Linked DNA regions of Homo sapiens. The protein of the gene in region 1 interacts with the protein of each later gene in a biochemical or structural test. Each region holds a gene or a part of one and is shown in the gene's direction. Other genes may lie near its edges.

Region 1 (7,025 bases):
TAGTTTTACTCTTGAGGGAGCCAAATAATGGCAAAAGGCCAAAGCAGATGGGGTGTGGGGGAATATGTTTTTGTGTTAGAGTTCAGGTAACCTGAGCAGTTACTACTGTTAATGTGAGTCAGAGAATTACAGGCACATATTTTACATTTATTGTGTTACCTGCCATTTTATTGAACTTTTTGAGATCATATGACTGCAGAGTAGTTGGCTTCTGCGAGAGTACTAATGGATGCCTTGGTAGTAAGATCAGAGGGCTGAATCTGGAGACTTGTCTTTTTGCTTAAGCAAAAGCAAAGATGCAGGGAATCCCTGTGGCAAGATGCAGGTGCAAATTACTGCCCTGTGTCTCTTTCCTCGTTGGGCAAGTGAAGATGGTAGTACCATGTCTGTTGCACAGTATCATTCTTTACTTTGAGAATGGAATAGGATGGAGGTCACCCTGTACATATATTAGACACTCAGCAAAGACTTGATTTTAGTTTAAAGATAAAATGGAAGCATGGTGGCTGTATTACATTTTCATTTGATTCCATCTTGATTTGCCTTGGGAGGAGATGGGTAAATTAAGTGATCAGAAGTAAAATAAGCAACGTGCCCTATTAACGAATGTTTTGTGTGGCCTCTGTATTGGCAGCTCAGTGTTTAGCCAGAATGTAAAGAAACTGATATATAAAAACGTCTTAGAGTTTTTAAAATTTCAGTTCTCTAGTGTTAAAAGGTAATTTTACAGAAAAAATGGCAAGTGAACACATGTTGAAACTTTTACTCAGAGGGAACCAGGCAAATGTTATACAGTAATGGTTAACCCGCAAAATCAAAACAGTACAAATTTATTAATATATGGAGTAAAGGAATGGAGAGATGAATTCCAAATGGAGACAGAAACTTTTTTTTCCCTTGAGTGGAAGGGAAGACATTTTGAACCTCTACTGTAGAGACAAAATTTACATGTCTATCAGTTATTCATAATGAAAAAAGAGTTGTGGCTGGGCGCAGTGGCTCACACCTGTAATCCCAGCACTTTAGGTGGCTGAGGTGGGAGGATCCTTTGAGTCCAGGAGTTTGAGACCAGCCTGGGCGACATCGTGAAACTCTGTCTCTACCAAAAATTAGCTGGGTGTGGTGGCCAGCTCCTGTTGTCCCAGCTACTCAGGAGGCTAAGGTGGGGGGAAGATCACTTGAGTCTGGGAGGTGGAGGTTGCGTTGAACCAAGGACAGAGTGGGTGACAGAGGGAGAGCCTGTCTCAAAAAAGAGTTGTAAGATAGCTCAAAGACATAGTGGAGGGCTATAGTCTGGTAACTTGGAAGGATGTGCTATATAGATAATGCATAGTTTTCCACTGAGATACAGAATTGTTTTCTACGTTTGATGTTAATTATGTGAATACAACTGAAAAGGTGGAGAGAAAAAGAGATTAAAATACCACATTTTCTATTTCTGTAAAGACTAATGATATTCACATTAAATTACAATTCAAATATTTGTTGAGTACGTACTGCTTGCTACCCGCCTATTATTTCATTTATGATATTTTTTAACCTTCTATATAAAACCAACTTTAGGAAGCAATAATTTAAAAATAGCCCCTAAAGCAGTGTTTCCTAGGCTGTTTAATAGGCATTTCATGGAAAAAAAAAAAAAAAAAGGCTTCCTCTGGAATGTATTTTAGAACTGCTGCCCTAAGATCCTAGATTAAATAAATCTTTTCTTTCCAAAGGAGACATTGGAATCTGTAATCAGGAGGTAGTGGAATCCTCTTCTGAGATTAGAGAGCTGAGATTAGAGGGCCACTCGTGTGTGAGATAAGGTATGAATTAGGAGAATTTTCAAGGTTTCCTGCAGTCATTTCTTTTTTTTGGAAGGATTTACTTTAATTGTGATTGAGAGTCTCTGGAGTTCTGATTTATGAGTATTATTACTTTAGAACAATGAGACAGTTTTAACTTGTAAATAGCATAGAATATATGTAGCACTTTAAAAAAATTCTAAATGTTTTGCGTTATAAGCAGAATTTGAATAACAGGATTTTAAAAAGTGACATCTAATGTAGAAGCCATTAACACTCCTGCTTCAAACGGCTCCCCAGCTCCATGCTCCAGACTGAGCAGCAGTCAAATACATTATGAAGACATATACATCAGTCAGATTTAAGAGTCACAGCTTTGGGATGGAATTACCAGCCAAGAGACCAGTTAGGCTTTTTCAGCACTTCCAGTACCTTTTGTAAAGAGCTGTAAAGATTCACTGATACAGTGTATTAAAGTGACTGGAACAGACCAGTGCCTTATTAAAGACAGTATTACTCTTCCATTATTCTCATTAGTATTTATTTCATTTTCATTTTTGTTGAAATATAAAATATCTACAAACCTTCTAACCTGTAGCTGGATTATGTTTATCCTTATGTGGAGGCAAGAATACATTTTTTTCTTCTTGTAGAAATTATTTCTCTTAGGTCAGTCAGCATCTTCCCAGTAGAGTTATTTACTGCTAAAAACAGTATTGCTGTTTCATGTAATTTTTCCTCATTTACTGCTTACAGGATGACGCTGTCAGTATAGAAAGTGGTACAAACACTGAACGCCCTGATACACCTACAAACACGCCAAATGCACCTGGAAGGAAAAGTTGGGGAAAGGGAAAATGGAAGTCAAAGAAATGCAAATATTCTTTCAAATGTGTAAATAGTCTCAAGGTATGTGCAAAAAAAGATCCTTTGGGCTGAATGCTAGGCTTCAGAAATTATTTCTCTGTGGCACGCATTTCGTACTCAGGATACTCTGTCAAGTTGTAAATATTTTAAAGTTACAATGTTTTCTGAAGGGTTTTTTTTTTTGTAGTTCAGACTGCGTATCTATTTTAGTCCATCCCATGTTTAGTTTTTTGGTTTTGTTTTTTGTTGTTTTAATTTAAATATGTGACAGTGTTGCAGGATGTTTTTGCTTTATTGTTTGCATTCAAATTATAAGATTTGGGTAACTATTACTCTTTATATTTTAGTAAAACTTAAAAAACATAAGCCACTTCTGGCATCAGTTTTTAAAAAGAACTGAATGTAACCCATTAACTTTGACTAAGTATAAATTGAAACAGATGTTTTACTTTGTACAGTTTCTGTCCTTTGTTTTATTTATAACTGTTTTCAAAGAAAAAGGTGTAAAAAATTTTTAAACTTTTTAATATTAAATATTTAGGGAAAAGGGGGTTTTGGTTATTTAAATTAATCTGTCCCCAATAGTATTTTTATTTACTTTATAAAAGGGGTTACTGGTGTTTAAGATATTTTCTTTTATATATGTCCAGTTTGTTTTTTAAATGTGAGGCTATTTTTTTCTATACTGAGGAAAAATGTGTATTATCTCATACATATGTAAGTTAAAACCTTTTCTAAATATCCAAATATATTTTTTATAAGTAAAGTTTTGGGAAAGCATAAGAAGCTATGACTATGACATTTTTCTGTCTGTGTAGCAAAAATTCGATGCTCAGTGTGTCAGATTTTGCTCCTGTAAAAGGAGAGAAATTAATCTCAGCATATTTTTTAAAAGTCAATTATAGTTTCATGTGCATATTTATTTACATTAACGTACTACTTTTAGGTACTGTACCTGGAAGATGTTTTTAGCTGCCTTTTATACTTAAGGCAGTATTTCAAAATCCTAAAGCTGTGGCTTTTCAAATGATGAGAAAACGAAAGACGTACTTTAAAAGTGAAAACAGTGCCTTAAACTGCATCTGAAAGTCAGTGTTAAATGCCAGAAGTTGGCCAGTAAAATCCTAAAGCTGAAAAATAACTTTGTGAACAAAAGTGCATAATTGTTCTTTGTACATCTCCTATAGCCTCCTGGTAACTGTGCAGTTACAGTTTATTTCTTCCCCTAGTCCCCAGTGTTCAGATATTCTCATTCTGACTAACAGAAAACAGTGATTTGAATGGAGTCTGCTATGCTTCACTTTACAAGGGAAAAATTTAGCCTTATAAAATTTAGTGAATGCCAGAGAAGCTATTAAGGCCATCTGTTAATTTCCTGTTTCAGAAAAATAAATTGTGTCCTTTTGTATCCACCAAAATTATCCAGTTTATTGTGATTCAGAATATGATTGGCTTATTAAGAAAAAGGCAAATATTATAAGTGTTTTCGTAGGTAAGCGGTTATTACCTAACTTGTGATTTCAGCCTTTGGTTGTGATAAAACTTTATCATACACAATATTTTAAAATGTGAAAACTAGACTAGTAGACATCTTTTAATTTTAGTGTCAAAAGTTAGCTTATGTATGATACACAAAATAATGTATTGCATTTTGGAAAAAAGAAGGGGATAGGTTAGTTTACTGTCATTTTCTGGTTTGTAAGATACATTAATCTTTTCTTATTTCATGATTATTTTATAGGAAGATCATAACCAACCATTGTTTGGAGTTCAGTTTAACTGGCACAGTAAAGAAGGAGATCCATTAGTGTTTGCAACTGTAGGAAGCAACAGAGTGAGTGTTAAGGGGTCTATTTAGTATTTGGCTTGATTTCCAGATCTGGTGTTAATGTAATATTGAAATAGAATAATTTCAAAGTGCATTTTGTGAAGCTGGTTTAGCAATATGATTCTTTCATGTAAGAGTGAAGGTTTCTAGAAATTAATTAAAACTAGTATGCATGGCTGAAAATACATCTATATTTAATATATTACCCCTAATTATTTATGAAACAGGTTTTATACTTGTATTTGTCTTCATAAATACTTGGTTGAAAGAATTGGCGTCCTTTTTTTTTTTTTTTAATTGGCGTTCTTTTTAAAGTGATTTTGGTATTTATCATTCAAATAGCGTAAGAACTGGCTGTGATTTTTTTAAAATTAAGGTAATGAATGGCTCTATAAATGAAGCATAAATCCAGTGGATTTAAATAAGTTATTGAGATGTTTTAATTACTTGCAGTAAACATTTGAGTTTGCTGGGTTTTTTTGTTTTGAGACAGGTAGTGTTTGGTGGTGATTGTTGTTGTTGTTGTTGTTGTTTGTTTTTGAGAGAGAGAGAGTCTTACTCCTTCCTCCAGGATGGAGTGCAGTGGTTAATCAAGGCTTACTGCAGCCTCAACTTCTGGGGCTCAGGTGATCCTCCCATGTCAGCCTTCTGAGTAGCTACAGGCATGCACTACCATCCCTGGCTAATTTTTTTTGTAGGGATAGGTTTTCACCGTGTTGCCCATGCTGGTCTTGAACTCTTGGGCTCAAGCAATCTACCTGCCTTGGCCTCCCAAAGAGCTGGGGTTGCAGTCATGAGCCACCATGTCCAGCCTTTTAAGGAAATTTTATAATGACATGTAAGGCTCTAGGCCTTTTACTATTTGACAAGGTCAATTCATTGAAACTCTAAATATTTTTAAGTTACCACTGAAGTTGATAACATGAAATAATAGCTTTTTTTCTTCTGTTTTTGGTGTTTAGTCAAATGTAGGTTTTAAGATAATGTAGTCTGCTTATAGTTGTTTAGTTCCTAGATTCTTTGAAAACAACAATTCAGAGGAAAAATTTTGCGGTTTTAAGAAAAGGTTGAGGTTATTTTTTTCCTAGTTGGGAATGTAGTGCATTAATTAAATTTGAGTCCACTTTTAAGACACCACTGTAAACCTAAGTTAATATTTAGCTTTGATAGTATTATAATTGGTATAGTTTGTGCTCCAGTGTGCTGATTGCAGTGTTTTAGGTTTTCTAACAAAAAGAATCCCTATTTTTATTTAAAGTGACATAAAGGGGTGTCATATAGTTTATTGAATTATAAAAAGTTCTGCTGTTAGAATTTCTTTAAAAGGAAGAAAGAAAACAAAAACAATTACCACATAAGACATAACCTAGTTAGCAGCCATATAAAGAATTTTTTTTGAACATTAACATAGAGGAGATAATGAATTAATAGGTTGTGATGATACACAGGATCTTCAGAGGTCTTCAGTACTATTATAAAATAATAATAGGTTTTTGCTAATGTGACTGACTATAAGCTATAAGAAAAATGGGGCCGGGCACAGTGGCTCACGCCTGTAATCCCAGCATTTTGGGAGGCTGAGGCAGGTGGATCACCTGAACTCAGGAGTTCGAGACCAGCCTGACCAACGTGGTGAAACCCTGTCTCTACTAAAAACACAAAAATTAGCTGGGCATGATAGCGAGTGCCTGTAATCTCAGCTACACGGGAGGCTGAGGCAGGAGGATCACTGGAATCCGGGAGGCAGAGGTTGCAGTGAGCCAAGATCATGCCATTGCACTCCAGTCTGGACGACAAGAGTGAAACTCTGTCTCAAAAAAAAAAAAAAAAAAAAAAAAAAAGAAAATGGAAAGAAATTTATAAAAGTTTAGTATTACAAAATTGTGTATGGTGTATGTATAGTTTTAATTTTAGAGTATGCAACAAATGAAAAAGGCTATCATACATGTGAAAGTTAATGTTTGATTATCTGTACCCATGAGAAAATAATTCATTAAGCAAATTGTAGACTTTTAAATATGTAACTAATATGTAAATACTCCAAAACTATCCAAAGACTTATTTTTATTTGAATTTTTATTTTTTATGGTTTTTTTTTTTTTTTGAGACTGAGTCTCTCTCTGTTGCCCAGGCTGGAGTGCAGTGGTGCAATCTTGGCTCACTGCAACTTCTGCCTCCTGGGTTCTAGCGATTCTCCTGTCTCAGCCTCCTGAGTAGCTGGGACTACAGGCACATGCCACCACACCCACCTAATTTTTGTATTTTTAGTAGAGACGGGGTTCCACCGTGTTAGCCAGGATGGTCTTGATCTCCTGACCTCGTGATCCACCCGCCTCGGCCTCCCAAAGTGCTGGGATTAAAGACATGAGCCACTGTGTCCGGACTTATTTTATTTTATTTTTTTTTGAGACAGAGTTTCGCTTTTGTTGCCAGGCTGGAGTGCAATGGTGCAATCTCGGCTCACTGCAACCTCCGCCTCCCGGGTTCAAGTGATTCACCAGCCTCAGCCTCCTGAGTAGCTGGGATTACGGGCATGTGCCACC
Region 2 (7,025 bases), on another chromosome or scaffold:
TGAGGGAGTTTCCTTCTCACTGTAACACATGATGGATGTGGTGGACCCAGTGCCATTTTCATTTTTTAAAAAGCTGGAGTTTCTGACCATGATCCTGACTATGGCATTTTTAAAATAAATTAAAAACAGACAAAAAAGCAAAACTGATGTGCTGGGGGGAAGCTGACCTGATAAGAGAGTTGGCGATCATACTCTTCCTTCTAAAACTCAGGTTGTTTTTGTTTTCCCCCTTACGTTTCTGATTTGGTTATTCCCAGCACACGGCACTTTCTTGGGTCACATTCGGTTGGAACCTCACAAGCCTCAGCAAATTCCCATCGATTCCACGGTCTCATTTGGCGCATCCACAAGGGCATACACTCTGCGCGAGAAGCCTCAGACATTGCCATCGGCTGTGAAAGGAGATGAGAAGATGGGTGGAGAGGATGATGAACTCAAGGGCTTACTGGGGCTTCCAGAGGAGGAAACTGAGCTTGATGTAATTCCCTGTTTATGTCATTGTTTTGTCTTTGGGGACCCTGGTTTTTGGAGTATACAGCTGTTCTATGTAGCTGGAAATGCCAGTGACTTAGCAGCAGGGGGTTCTCTTGAGTCCAGTAATGGGCCTTTGGCAATCTGGTGTGGCCAGCTGTGACAGCTCTCGGAGAGCCACATTGTATGGATTTGGTTGTGTATCACCAGGCCTAACAAGGAGGCTGAGTCCCAGCCACTAGTCTCCTTGAGCTGTTTTGTGCACCTTCACTGGCTGTTAGAAGCTAAGACTGGAAGCTACATTTCTCTGTCCCTTGACTGCTTAGAGCTAATGCTGTCCAATATGGTAGCCACTAACAATATTTCAAGTATTATGTAGTCACATATGGCTAGTGGCTGCTATGTTGGCTAGTGCAAAGAGAGAATGTTTTCATCCTCACAGAAAGTTCTGTCAGACAGCACTGGCTTAGAGAGACTGACATTTTCATTCATTCATGTAGCTTTTTTTGGTGCTATCTGAACAGTCCAGGAATCTTCTGAATAGAGCCAGACTGCTTTTGTTCTTCCATGGGCCTCGCTGTCCTGAGGGCCATGAATTTTATAAGATTTAATTTTAAGGTGCTAGAAGTTTTCCTTTTTTGAAACTGACCCCAGTAGTTTGGTGTGGCTATAGTCCTTTACATAGCTGTCACTGCACTGGTGTGATTGGTCTGTTCAAATAGACCAAATGCAATCATGTCCTTAACCACCCACCTGCATTTACTATTCCTGTACACCAAGGCAGTTTCCTGGCTCTTAGGAAGAAAAGCACGATAGAAATTGTACAACTTAGGCCGGGCACAGTGGCTCATGTTTGTAACCCCAGCACTTCGGGAGGCCGAGGTGGGCGGATCACCTGAGGTCAGGAGTTCGAGACCAGCCTGGCCAACATGGAGAAACCCCATCTCTACTAAAAATACAAAAAATTAGCTGGGTGTGGTGGTGCATGCCTGTAATCCCAGCTACTCAGGAGGCTGAGGCAGGAGAGTCACTTGCACCTGGGAGGTGGAGGTTGTGGTGAGCCAAGATCGCGCAGTTGCACTCCAGCCTGGGCAACAAGAGCGAAACTCCGTCTCAAAAAAAAAAAAAAAAAAGAGAAATTTTACAATTAAGAAGTCGTTTTGTTTTGAAGAAGTGGCTTCATAGCCAGGGACCTTGCTGTTGCCCATTTCCCCTTTAGGCCACCTTATCCAGGCTGCTGCTATACTTCCATGGCTTTTAGTTCAGTATGTTAGGTACTCCCTGGATCTTCATTCTTAAGACATTTAGAATATCTCAAACTTGTGGTTTGTACCAGAAAGGAATAATTTCAGTGGATTGGGAAGAGGCAAGCAACAGAGCTAAGGCCAAGTTAATTATTGAGATAGTTATGAATAGAATTGGGGCCAGACACAGGATGGGGCATGACAAAATATTAACGCCAAAAATTAAGTGCACTAGCAGTGTCCTTAATTTTGAAGGAGAAAGCTACTAGGAAGGAAGCAGCCAGTTGTCCTTTTTCATCTCAATTTTGTTACTTAAAAACAATTCTTGGCGTTCCTTCCAGCCACATTTCCTTTTAATTCTCAGCTTATTGTGGGCATGAAGACATGATAGCCTTTCTTCAGCAACAACAAAAAACACAACTCAAGGATATTTGCACAGATGACCTGTTCTCAGCTCAAGGCCCTTTACCTCTTGAATATCACTGCCCCACTAGTCAATGAGGATGTTCCACATTCTTTCTAATGAGACTTGAGACTTGTTAGTATTCGTAGTCTCGGGACAGTATGAATCTTCTCTAAATGCAGAAGTGTCTCAACTCCCTTTGGAGGTCAAGATTAGCCCCTCATGCCTTCCTCACCTTTATTTAGTATGATTTTCTCCATCAGATTCCCTTTGTACTGACTGCTGTCTTTCCTGTATGAACCCTGGCTTAGAACCTGACAGAGTTCAACACTGCCCACAACAAGCGGATTTCTACCCTTACCATTGAGGAGGGAAATCTGGACATTCAAAGACCAAAGAGGAAGAGGAAGAACTCACGGGTGACATTCAGTGAGGATGATGAGATCATCAACCCAGGTGAGGTATCTTGCTAGTTTATTCTGATGAAAAAGCTGTGGTTGGCCCGGGCGCGGTGGCTCACGCCTGTAGTCCTAGCACTTTGGGAGGCCGAGGAGGGTGGATCACTTAAGGTCAAGAGTTCAAGACTAGCCTGGCCAACAAGGTGAAACCCCATCTCTATTAAAAAAAATACAAAAATTAGCTGGGCATGGTGGTGTTCGCCTGTAGTCCCAGCTACTTGGGAGGTTAAGGCAGGAGAATTGCTTGAACCCAGGAGGCAGAAGCTGCAGTGAGCCGGGATTGTGCCATTGCACTCCTGCCTAGGTGACAAAAAAAAAAGAAAGAAAAAGCTGTGGTTGGTCAGGCATAGTGGCTCATGCCTATAATCCCAGCACTTTGGAAGGTTGAAGTTGGTGGATTGCTTGAGGCCAGGATTTCAAGACCAGGGTGGCCAACATGGCAGAACCCTGTCTCTACAAAAAATAAAAAAATCAGCCAGGCATGGTGGCACACACCTGCAGTCCCAGCTACTCAGGAAGCTGAGGCAGGAGAATCGCTTAAACCTGGGAGGCAGAGGTTGCAGTGAGCCGAGGTTGTGCCACTGCACTCCCACCTGGGTGACAGAGTGAGACTGTCTCCAAAAAAGAGTTTCCAGGGTTGGACCTAGAAATTTATATGTTTTTTAATTTTTCTTTTTTGTGTGTGTGTGAGACACGATCTCATTCTGTCGCCCAGGCTAGAGTGCAGTGGCACAGTCACGGCTCACTACAGCCTTGACCACCCAGGCTCAGGTGATCCTCCCACCTCAACCTCCTGAGTATCTGGGACAACAGGTGCACGTCACCACGCTCAGCTAATTGTCATATGTTTTGTAGAAATGGGGTTTCATCATGTTGCCCAGGCTGGTCTTGACCTCCTGGGCTTAAGCGATCCTCCTGCCTCAGTCTCCCAAAGCACTGGGATTACAGGCATGAGTCCCCATGCCTGGCTGAAATTTTTATTTTTTATTTTTTATTTTTATTTATTTATTTTTTGAGACGGAGTCTCGTTCTGTCACCCAGGCTGGAGTGCAGTGACGCAATCTCGGCTCATGCAACCTCTGCCTCCTGGGTTCAAGTGATTCTCCTGCCTCAGCCTCCCAAGTAGCTGGAATTATAGGCTTCTGCCACCACACCTGGCTAATTTTTTTGTATTTTTAGTAGAGACGGGGTTTCACCATGTTGGCCAGGCTGGTTTTGAACTCCTGACCTCAGGTGATCTGCCCTCAACCTCCCAAAGTGCTAGGATTACAGGCGTGAGCTACCGCGCCCAGCCCAAAATTTATATTTTTTAATGAGCTCCTGTTTGTACAACAGCCAGCAATTTGGGAACCACTGGACTAGACAAATTTCTTTTTTTTTTTTTTTTTTTTTTTTGAGACAGAGTCTCGCTCTGTCACCCAGGCTGGAGTGCTGGAGTGCAGTGGCACGATCTCAGTTCACTGCAACCTCCGCCTCCTGGGTTCACGCCATTTTCCTGCCTCAGCCTCCCGAGTAGCTGGGACTACAGGCGCCCGCCACCATGCCCGACTAATTTTTTTTTTTTTTTTTTTTTTTTTTTTTTAGTAGAGACGGGGTTTCACCGTGTTAGGCAGGATGGTCTCGATCTCCTGACCTCGTGATCCGCCCGCCTCGGCCTCCTAAAGTGCTGGGATTACAGGCGTGAGCCACCATGCCCGGCCTGACAAATTTCTTAAGTCTCTTTCAGGAGTGAGGATCTGATCTGCTCTGTTTTTCTCACTGAAAATTAGTGCCCTCGGCCGGGCACGGTGGCTCACCCCTATAATCCCAGCACTTTGGGAGGCCGAGGTGGGCGGATCACGAGATCAGGAGATCAAGACCATGCTGGCTAACACGGTGAAACCCCATCTCTACTAAAAATATAAAAAATTAGCTGGGTGTGGTGGCGGGCGCCTGTAGTCCCAGCTACTTGGGAGGTTGAGGCAGGAGAATGGCGTGAACCCAGGAGGCGGAGCTTGCAGTGAGCCGAGATGGTGCCACTGCACTCCAGCCTGGGCGACAGAGCAAGACTCCGTTTCAAAAAAAAAAAAGAAAGAAAGAAAATTAGTGCCCTCGAGCTTTCTTAGGGAAATGTGTTCAGGCAGTATAGCATAGTGGTTAAGAGCACAGGCTCTGAAACCGGAGGGGCCATGAGAGAAGTTTGGGATACCTTTTTAGAGACATTGTCTCTTTCTTAATCAGCTTGGATATTTTTGTCCTTTCTCGTCTATATAGAAGCCATTTGTTCATTGAGCATAGATTGATGGTGAATATAATACCAGAGTGTCCTCTTTAAAGGCATGGATCCTAATATGTGAAAAAATCCAGACTTAAAGCAAATAAACCAGGGGCTAATTATAATTACTCAAATTAAATAGTGATTCTTTGTTTTCCAAAGGGATTTCTGGGAGTTTTTCTTTCTTTCTTTCTTTCTTTTTTTTTTTTTTTTTTTTTTTTGAGACGGAGTCTCCTTCTGTCGCCCAGGCTGGAGTGCAGTGGCGTGATCTCGGCTCACTGCAAGCTCCACCTCCCGGGTTCACGCCATTCTCCTGCCTCAGCGTCCCGAGTAGCTGGGACTACAGGTGCACGCCACCACACCCAGCTAATTTTTTGTATTTTTTAGTAGAGACGGAGTTTCACCATGTTAGCCAGGATGGTTTCGACCTCCTGACCTCATGATCTGCCCACCTCGGCCTCCCAAAGTGCTGGGATTACAGGCGTGAGCCACCGCACCCGGCCAGGAGTGTTTCTTTCAATAACAAGCAACCTCATTGAAAATAAGATGACAACATCTATTAGGGAAATGATTCCTTCTCTATCACTATATTAAGTTAACTGGGGCTTGGAGTAGTTTTCTCTAGTAGTGGTACATAAGTTGGTGCCTCTGCATGTTTCCACTCACATTCAACCTTCAGTGAGAAAACTCCACCATCCTTGGTGATCCAGCCCAGTCATCCCCTCTGTGCTCCAGAAACACTGTTGTGCACTTCTCTTGAAGCACCTCTGTGTTGTAGCCTATCTGGCTCTGTGACTGTGAATTCAAGGGTGGGACAGTATCTTGCTCTTCATTTCCCGTGTAGACGGGGGCATCAGAGCCTTTAGTGCAAGTCTTGCTTATATACAGTTCAGGCCGTTCAAGTCAAAAGGCCAGGTTCAGTTTGAAGCCCTGGCTTTGAAACCAAAATCCGTTTTTTTGCTAATAAGCAGGCATTAGCAAGGCATTTGATATGTGACCTCTTGACATGTCATTGTTTTGTCACTGATATGGAACTGATAATGTCTACTCTTCTTTTCTTTCCCCTCAAAAGAGGGAGTTATACAGAATGGGAAAGAACTTGGGGGAGGGCAGCACAGCACAGTGGTGCAGATCACAGGCCTGTTTTGAACTACTTGGACTCAAGTCCTGGCTCCTGTACTCTCCACCAGAGCAACTGGGCCAGTCCCTTTGCTCCTCCAAGCCTCAGTTTGCTTTCTCATCTACTAAATGTTGATTGTGGTAGTACCTACATCACAGGGTCTTTGTGAGGATTTAGCACAATGCCCAGCACCCAGGAAGCACTCTCTGTGTTTTACAATTTTAATATGAGTTGTTGTGATGGTTTGTTTGCAGTGACTCCTGTGCCCTTATTCCTCCCAGTAAAGTACCAACCCAACCCTGCCCTCTTCTCTTTTTGCAGAGGATGTGGATCCCTCAGTTGGTCGATTCAGGAACATGGTGCAAACTGCAGTGGTCCCAGTCAAGGTAGGAAGCACATGAAATGCCATACAGTCTGTGTTTTAAAACCTGCTCTTTAGGCCAGGCGCGTTGGCTTATGCCTGTAATCCAAGCACTTTGGGAGGCTGAGGCAGGCAGATCAAGAGGTCAAGAAATCGAGGCCAGGCACAGTGGCTCACACTTGTAATCCCAGCACTTTGGGAGGCCAAGGCAGGCAGATCACCTGAGGTCAGGAGTTCGAGACCAACCTGGCCAACATGGTGAAACCCTGTCTCTACTAAAAATACAAAAATTAGCCAGGCGTGGTGGTAGGTCTCTGTAATCCCAGCTACTCAGGAGGCTGAGGCAGGAGAATCGCTTGAACCTGGGAGGCGGAGGTTGCAGTGAGCTGAGGTCGCACCATTGCACTCCAGCCTGGGCAACAGAGCAAGACTCTGTCTCAAAAAAAAAAAAAAAAGAGATTGAGACCATCCTGGCCAACATGTTGAAACCCTGTCTCTACTAAAAATACAAAAATTAGCTGGGTGTGGTGGCGCATTCCTGTAGTCTCAGCTAACTGGGAGGTTGAGGTGGGAGAATCGCTGGAACCGGGGAGGTGGAAGTTGCAGTGAGCTGAGATGGTGCCACTGCACTCCAGCCTGGTGACAGAGCGAGACTCCATCTCAAAAAAAAAATAACCTGCTCTTTATGTGCTGTTGAGTGAGTGCTTAATTTTA
Region 3 (7,674 bases), on another chromosome or scaffold:
CTACATCCTGGGCCATGAAACATGCCTCAACAAATTTAAAAGAATAGACATTATACAAAGTATGCTTTCAGACCACAATGAAATTGAATTAGGAATCAATAGAAGAATGGTAGCTGGAAAATCACATAATATTTGGGGATTAAACAATATACTTCTAAAGAAAACATGGGTTAGAGAAGAAGTGTCAAGATAAATTTTAAAATATTTTGAGATAAATTACCAAAATTTGTGGGATGCAGCAAAAGTGGTGCTTAGAGGGAAATTTGTAGCATTGAATGCATACATTAGAAAATAAGAAATACCTTAAATAAATCATCTAAGCTTCCATCTTAGGAAACTAGAAAATAAAACAGCAAATTCAGCCCAAAGTAAGCAGAAAAAAATGCAATAAAAATTAAAACAGGAATCAATGAAATTGAAAACAGAACAATAGTAGAGAAAAAGCAATACAATCAAAAGCTGGTTCTTTGAAAAGGTCAACAAGATTGAGAAGCTTGTAGCCAGACTGACCCAGAAAAAAAGAGAGTAAACAAAATTACTCATATCAGAAATTAGAGAGGAGCCATTGCTACTGACCTCATGGACATTAAAAGGATAATAAAAAGTATTATGAACAACTCTATGGCCACAAATTTGATTACTTAGATAAAATGAACAAATTCCATGGCTTGTTTTTAATGAATAGGATATGGCAAAAGTGATGAGATCTCACTTCTGAGATTAAGTTATAAAAAGACTGCATCTTTCCTCTTGGGATCTCTCTCTCTCTCTCTCTCTCTCTTTCTCTCTCTCCAGCTACCATGCTGTGAGGAGACTTAGGAAGCCTACGGATAGGTCCACACGACAAGGAATCAAAGTCTGACAACAGCCACATGAGTTAGCTTAGAAATGGGTCTTCTTTGGCCTGTCAACAACCATGTAAAAGAGCTTGGAAGTGGACCTCTTACCCTACTTGAGCCTTCAAATGAGACTGCAACCCTAGATGAGAGCTTGGGTGCAACCTCGTAAGAAAGTTTGAGTCAGAGGCACCTAACTAAGCCATGCCTGGATTCCAGACCCATAGAAACTGATATGATAAATGTTTGTTGTTTTTAGCTGCTATGTTTTAGGGAAATTTGTTACACAGCAATAGATACCTACTACATACTCTTTGACCAAGAAATTCTACTTCAATGTTTCCATACTAGAGCAATTTATTTCAATCCTTTTCACATCAGAACATATATTTAAAATGCTATCAGCTCACTGGAATAAACAGACAGTGTGCTCTTGGCCAGAGGCAACAGTCTCTAGGGGCAGCTGCTGAAGCCAAAGCTACCTTCCTGGAGAGCTAAGGGGATCAATATATCAGAACACTTATAACTCAGTTGGGAAGCTCTGCCCTGAAGAAACTCTTCTATGTAGGCACAAGGAGCCATGCACTAGGATGTTCATTGAATCCTCACTTATAATTGCACAAAACAGAAACAGTAGGAAAAGAGATAAATTGGATAACTTATGCAAAAGAAGTCCATACAATAATATGTTATAGTAATGTATTGGATAATTGATACAGTAATATTCAGCAGTTAAAATGCATGACTCAGATCTACAGGTATCAAAATTGCTGAGTTTCAAAAAACAACAGAGTGAAAATCTAAGTTGCAAAAGTATATATTTATAATGATACCATCTGTATAATTTAAATACATGAAACAAAATTGTGTATTGGTCACAGATATATATATGTAAATATATATTATATATCTGTATATATATGTATACATACACTTATATGCACATATACATATATACACATATATACATACATATATATACACACACATATATATATATATATATATATATATACACATACACACACACACAAACATGAACAAGACGACAGCACATCAACTTCCAAATAAGGCTTATTTTCAAGAGAGAGGTCAAGTGAATAGGATGAAGTGAGGGCTTCATCTGTACTATTTTGTTTCAAAAACAGAAGGATCTGAGGATCTGGAGAAAATAAAATTTGCTCAATCCATGTGACAGGTGCATTAAAATGTGTATTTTATACTCTACTTTTCTGTATAGTTGACATATTTAAAAATATTTTTATAAAGAAAATGTATCCTCTCTTGAGTCCAAAAATACATATACAAGCTGGGCACAGTGGCTCACGCTTGTAACTCCAGCACTTTGGGATACCGATGCAGGTGGATTGCTTGAGATCAGGAATTCGAGACCAGCCTGGTCAACATGGTGAAACCCCATTTCCACTAAAAAATACAAAAACTAGCTGGGTGTGGTGGTGCACACCTGCAGTCCCAGCAACTCAGGAGGCTGAGGCAGGAGATTGCTTGAACTCGGGAGGTGGAGGTTGCAGTGAGCCAAGATTTTACCACTGTACTCCAGCCTGGATGACAGAGCAAGACTCTGTCTCAAAAAAACAAAAATACATATACATTCGGTATATTGTACTGTCCCATTTCCTCATATCGTTATTTATTTTGCAGTCTATTTGATTTATCTATACCATAAGAAATGAGGTGAAGTTTCCCACTATAATTGCAGACTTCCTGATCTCTCTTTATATTTCTAACAGTATTTGCTTTATATATTTTGAAACTACATTGTTTGGCACATAAATTTTTGTGACTATCATATGTTTTTTTTTAAAATGCACTGTTCTGCAACATGCTTTTTTCACTTAATATATTTATATTAGACCAGTACATATATACATATATACTTGCCTTCTTTCTTTCTTTCTTTTTTTTTTTTTTTTTTTTGAGACAGGGTCTGACTATTGCCCAGGCTGGATCACAGTGGCGCAATCTTGGCTCACTGCAGCCTCAACCTCCTGGGCTCAAGTGATTCTCCCACCTCAGCCTCCCAAGTAGCTGGGACTACAGGCACGTACCATTGCGCCAGGGAAATTTTTACGTTTTTTTTGTAGAGATGGGGTTTCACCATATTGTCCAGGCTGGTCTCAACTCCTGGGCTCAAGCAATCCTCCTGCCTTGGTCTCCCAAAGTGCTGCGATTACAGGTGTCAACCACCATGTCTGTACATGAGCCACCATGCAACATGTTTAAATAAATTTAAACAATTTATTTGTTGAGGAGAATTAAAGTTGTTTGCATTATCTTGCTACACTCCTATTCACATATCTTTCTCCATTTGTGTGTCTCAATAGAACACACAATAGAGCAATTGACTAGAAGTAGAATTGCTAGATGAAAATGTATCTCCATTAAAAAATTTGATAGTTTCAGATTTCTCACCAATGAAGTTCTATTATTGTTATTATTATCATCATCATTTTGAGATGGCATCTTGCTTGGTTGTCCAGGCTGGAGTGCAGTGGCGTGATCTTCACTCACTTCAGCCTCAACCTCCTGGGCTCACACAATCCTCCTGCTTCAGCCTCCTAAGTAGTTGGGACTACAGGCACACACCACCAGCTTGTCATATCTTTCTCAGTGAATAAAGCAACCTGTTTTGTTCTCTTTAGTTCTTTTTACTTTGAGTTCTCGATGTTTAGGATATTGATATTGTTACGAGTTTGTTTCCTCCTTCCTTTCCTTCCTTTTTTTTTTTTTTGCTTCTTTCCTTCCCTCATTCCCTCTCTCCCTTTTTTCTGCTAGTATTTTACTCTCATATATTTTTTATTCCTATTTCTGCTTTAGGTGAAACTCACATAAATAGAATATAACTTAGCTTTTAAAAACAAAATGCTCAAAATAAGAGTTTGGTTTTTATTAGGAGATGTTAACCCATAATGCATGCTGATATATTTGGATTCCTGCATTTTTGTTTTCTTTTTGCATCCTTTTTTTTGTACCCCCCCAGCAACATTTCTTGACCTTTGTTAAGAATGAGTTTTTCTCTTTGTTCCACATATTATTACTTTAATGGTTTGAAAGTTATACATTTTATTTCTATTATGTTGTTACCCCTAAGATTTTTGTTCTATTATGCATTTTGTTTCCAGTAAGAACAAAACTTTGCTACTGTTGTGAACATGGGAAATGTTTACATTGGCTGTAAATACTAGAGTTCCATTATAAAGCGCAATTTAAAGACTTCAGAATTCAGTAAAATGGTATAAATCCAAAAGGCGTAACTACAATATTTTTAACTGCAATGCAATAACAGAATATGAACCTGTGTTGTGTCCTATGATCTCTTGGACAGAGAAGCTTGGTTTTGTGATTAGCAGCAACAAATTCAACATAAACAGCTTCAATTTGCTTTAACCATCAGGTTAAAAAAAATTTAAGCTTACTGCAACCCTAAATATGGTTTCACAGTTTTAATACTTTCGGTACAACCATAACACGTAACATAGGATGTGATGTAGTAACGTAATTACTCTCACATTGGACTTAATCAGAAAGAATTTGCAGATTTTATTTTATTTATTAAAAAACCAGAAGGCAATATAGCTAAATGTTTAACATTAGTTAAAGCTGGGTGTTTGTGACATTTTTCGCTGTCCTTTTCTGTATCCTTGACGATTTCATCATTTAAGATGAAATAATGCTTTCGGGCCCACCCTGATTTGTGGAGAGCAGCTGCCGCCCCCGCCACATCAAGGAGGCGGGCTCCAGCTGACTTCACAATCACTTCCGCCGCCGCAGTCGCCGCCCGCCCCGCTGCTGTCTGGCGGGGGAGGAGCTCGGGACCGGGAGCAGCGGCTCTGGCGGTCGTGGCGGTCGGAGATCCGAGAGCTCTGCTTCTCTGAAAAGCGTGTGGCTTTCTGGACTTGGTGAGTGAAAGGCTGATTGTTTCCTCGATTCATCCGGGCGCTGGCGGTGGCGCGAGTGGCCGGGCGCGGGGCGAGTGGCCGGGCACGGGGGCGAGGATTTTGGGGGGTTCCTGGGAACTGCTTTTCAGGTTCGCCCCTCGGGAAGGGGTGGGGCGGACGCGGGACCTGACTGCAGAGTGAGGCCCATGTCCTCCATCGGCCTGTTCTGGGGCCACATCTTCCGCTGCCGGAACCCCTTTGGTGTGGCGCGGTCCCCACTCGAGTGGCTTTCATCGCTATTGGGAGGGCAGTGGTGGTCGCGGCCCTCTCCCACTTCTCCCTGCCTCTCCTCCCCTCTCCTTCCTTCTTCCCTCCTCGGCCCCTTTGCGGAGCACTCCGTGGCCTTTCTTCCCATATTTTGCTGTTGTTTTGCCAAATGGTAAATGGTTAAGATTTTTAGGTAAAAATACTGTTCCCAGGGAAAAAATTGGAAGGAAAAAATAATTATTCTCAGGGAAAACTAGACCCACGCACGCCCTTTTCTTTCATTTTCCCTCTCCCCTGCCACATCGGTTGGGGTCTCCCGTTTGAGCTGATGGCCTTTTCCCACCTCTTTTTATGACATTGCGTCCCCCCTACCCCCCACCCCCCGTGTGTCGCGAGCACGCGCCCCCGCACAGAAGCCTTCCATTGCAGCCCCCTCCTTGCCCCTCCATCCTCAAGGTTCCAGTGCTTCCCCTCCCCCGCGCATGCGCAGGCACACGCAGCACACACCCTCTCACACACCCTCACACCCTCACACCCTCCCATGCCTTCCCCCTCCTCTATCCGCCTACCACATACACACCTCTAGCACCGGCCCCCTCCCTGCTCGGCCTCTGCGTGCTCTCGCGAACACATGCCTATTCACACACCCCCTCCGGCTGCCCTCCTTCTTCCTTCCTGTCATATACACACATAAGGACATCCTTCTATCGCTGGCCAGTGACATACATATGTAGCCACATGTGCTCATTCATACCCCCTTCTCAAATGCTCTCCTCTATTGCTCTGTCTGCCACGTGTGTCAGACACAGCTCTCTTTTGCTGGTCCCTGAGGTGCACACACTCGCACTCACATAAATCCTTCTACGGGGACACAACCTGCCTCCCTGCTTGCCATATCCACACAGGCAGGCATCATTCTTTGATTGCCTGCCTCTGTTCCATCCACCTCAAGCACATCCCTCTCCAGTGCTGCGCACCCCCCACCCCCGCTTCCATTTGTGCCTGCTGCATTTGCTCACACTGACATTTCTCCATTGTTGCCTCCCATTTTGACTAACATACACACACACAAACTCTCAGACACTCCTCTCCATTGCCAACCATACACTCCTCTGCCTGTGACATACGCATAAACATGGGCATCCTTCTGTAGTTTCAGCTGCCTCACATACAGCTACACACACAAACACCTTCCCTTTCCTCATACATACACGCACCCCTCTCCTCCAAAGCCACCCCACCCATGCCTGTCATTTTCATACCCACATCCAGAATGGGTCTCATTCTAACACTCATACCCTTTCCCCCTACAAACGTAAACATCCCTCTGTTGCAGGATTACTGGTCCCCTTCCACCTGTCCCTCTCCTCTTGATAGACAGACACATAGGCACTCGTGCACACACGGCGATCTGTATTTTCCACTCTATTCCAATTTGCATTTCTCCTGTATGTCTGCAGCACTCAGAAAAATGCAGACACCCCATAAAAAAAACTATAGCAGTCTTTCCTTTCCCCACGTTGCACAATTCCACAGTACTTCACCCACCTTCCAAGCGTCCAGTCACCCCCCAACCTTCCGTCAGATTCTCCTCTAAGTCTGGCTTTCCTGCAAACCCAGTCTTGTAATCATTTTGCCAACATTAAAAATGTGTTCCAGGTCTACACCTGACAGTCACTGGAATGCTACTCCAGGCCTTAGAAGAAAGTGAAACTAATTTTAAAGGCCCCTTATTCTTTCTGTTACCTGCCTGCTGAAGTGAAAATAAATCTCCCTGCTCCTTTATTCTAAACTGATTTTACTTTCCCATCTCAAAAACGTGTGCAGGGAGCAGGAGCCCTCCTACCCGAGCCCCAGCTGTATTGGAAACCCTCCTAAGTCAGAGTGATGGGTCAGGAATCTAGCAAGCCTGTATGGCCCAATCCAACAGGAGGGTATCAGTCCAATACAGGTAGGAGGTATGGAAGAAGGCATGCTTATGTCAGTTTCAGGCCACCCACGAGCCAGCGGGAAAGGATTGCCAGCCAGAGAAAGACGAACTCCGAAGTCCCAATGCACAGATCAGCCCCCAGTCAAACCACCAAGAGGAGCCGATCGCCATTTTCCACTACTCGTCGTAGTTGGGACGACAGCGAGAGTTCGGGAACCAACCTGAATATTGATAATGAGGACTATTCCAGGTATCCGCCAAGAGAGTACAGAGCTTCGGGTAGCAGAAGAGGAATGGCCTATGGACATATTGACTCTTATGGGGCAGATGATAGTGAGGAGGAGGGGGCTGGGCCTGTTGAGCGACCGCCAGTGAGAGGGAAAACTGGCAAGTTTAAAGATGATAAGCTGTATGACCCAGAGAAAGGGGCAAGGTCTTTGGCTGGGCCACCTCCACATTTCTCTAGTTTTAGCCGTGATGTGAGAGAGGAGCGAGACAAGTTAGACCCAGTCCCTGCAGCAAGATGCTCAGCTAGCAGAGCTGACTTCCTGCCACAAAGTAGTGTGGCCTCACAGTCGTCTTCTGAAGGCAAGCTGGCTACAAAAGGTGACAGCTCGGAGAGGGAGAGAAGGGAGCAAAATTTACCTGCACGTCCCAGCAGGGCTCCTGTGAGTATTTGTGGTGGTGGGGAAAACACCTCAAAGAGTGCAGAGGAACCTGTGGTCAGGCCCAAAATCAGAAA

The links. The genes of interacting proteins can lie anywhere in the genome.
Region 2: the proteins of EED (region 1) and PPP1R8 form a complex in vitro, tested with the Homo sapiens proteins (2 studies listed by BioGRID).
Region 3: of the proteins of EED (region 1) and PJA1, one has a biochemical effect on the other in vitro, tested with the Homo sapiens proteins (one study listed by BioGRID).

What each region holds. Positions count from the first base shown.
Region 1 is NC_000011.10:86,247,753-86,254,777, forward strand, and holds part of EED (polycomb protein EED), read left to right. Parts: intron 1-1,696; exon of another isoform or gene 1,697-1,808; intron 1,809-2,543; coding exon 2,544-2,696; intron 2,697-4,395; coding exon 4,396-4,488; intron 4,489-7,025. UniProt on the Homo sapiens protein: Polycomb group (PcG) protein. Component of the PRC2/EED-EZH2 complex, which methylates 'Lys-9' and 'Lys-27' of histone H3, leading to transcriptional repression of the affected target gene.
Region 2 is NC_000001.11:27,840,757-27,847,781, forward strand, and holds part of PPP1R8 (nuclear inhibitor of protein phosphatase 1), read left to right. Parts: intron 1-257; coding exon 258-478; intron 479-2,429; coding exon 2,430-2,574; intron 2,575-6,271; coding exon 6,272-6,336; intron 6,337-7,025. UniProt on the Homo sapiens protein: Inhibitor subunit of the major nuclear protein phosphatase-1 (PP-1). It has RNA-binding activity but does not cleave RNA and may target PP-1 to RNA-associated substrates. May also be involved in pre-mRNA splicing.
Region 3 is NC_000023.11:69,162,454-69,170,127, reverse strand, and holds the start of PJA1 (E3 ubiquitin-protein ligase Praja-1), read left to right. Parts: upstream 1-4,674; 5' UTR 4,675-4,756; intron 4,757-6,661; exon of another isoform or gene 6,662-6,889; coding exon of another isoform or gene 6,890-7,054; coding exon 7,055-7,674. UniProt on the Homo sapiens protein: Has E2-dependent E3 ubiquitin-protein ligase activity. Ubiquitinates MAGED1 antigen leading to its subsequent degradation by proteasome. May be involved in protein sorting.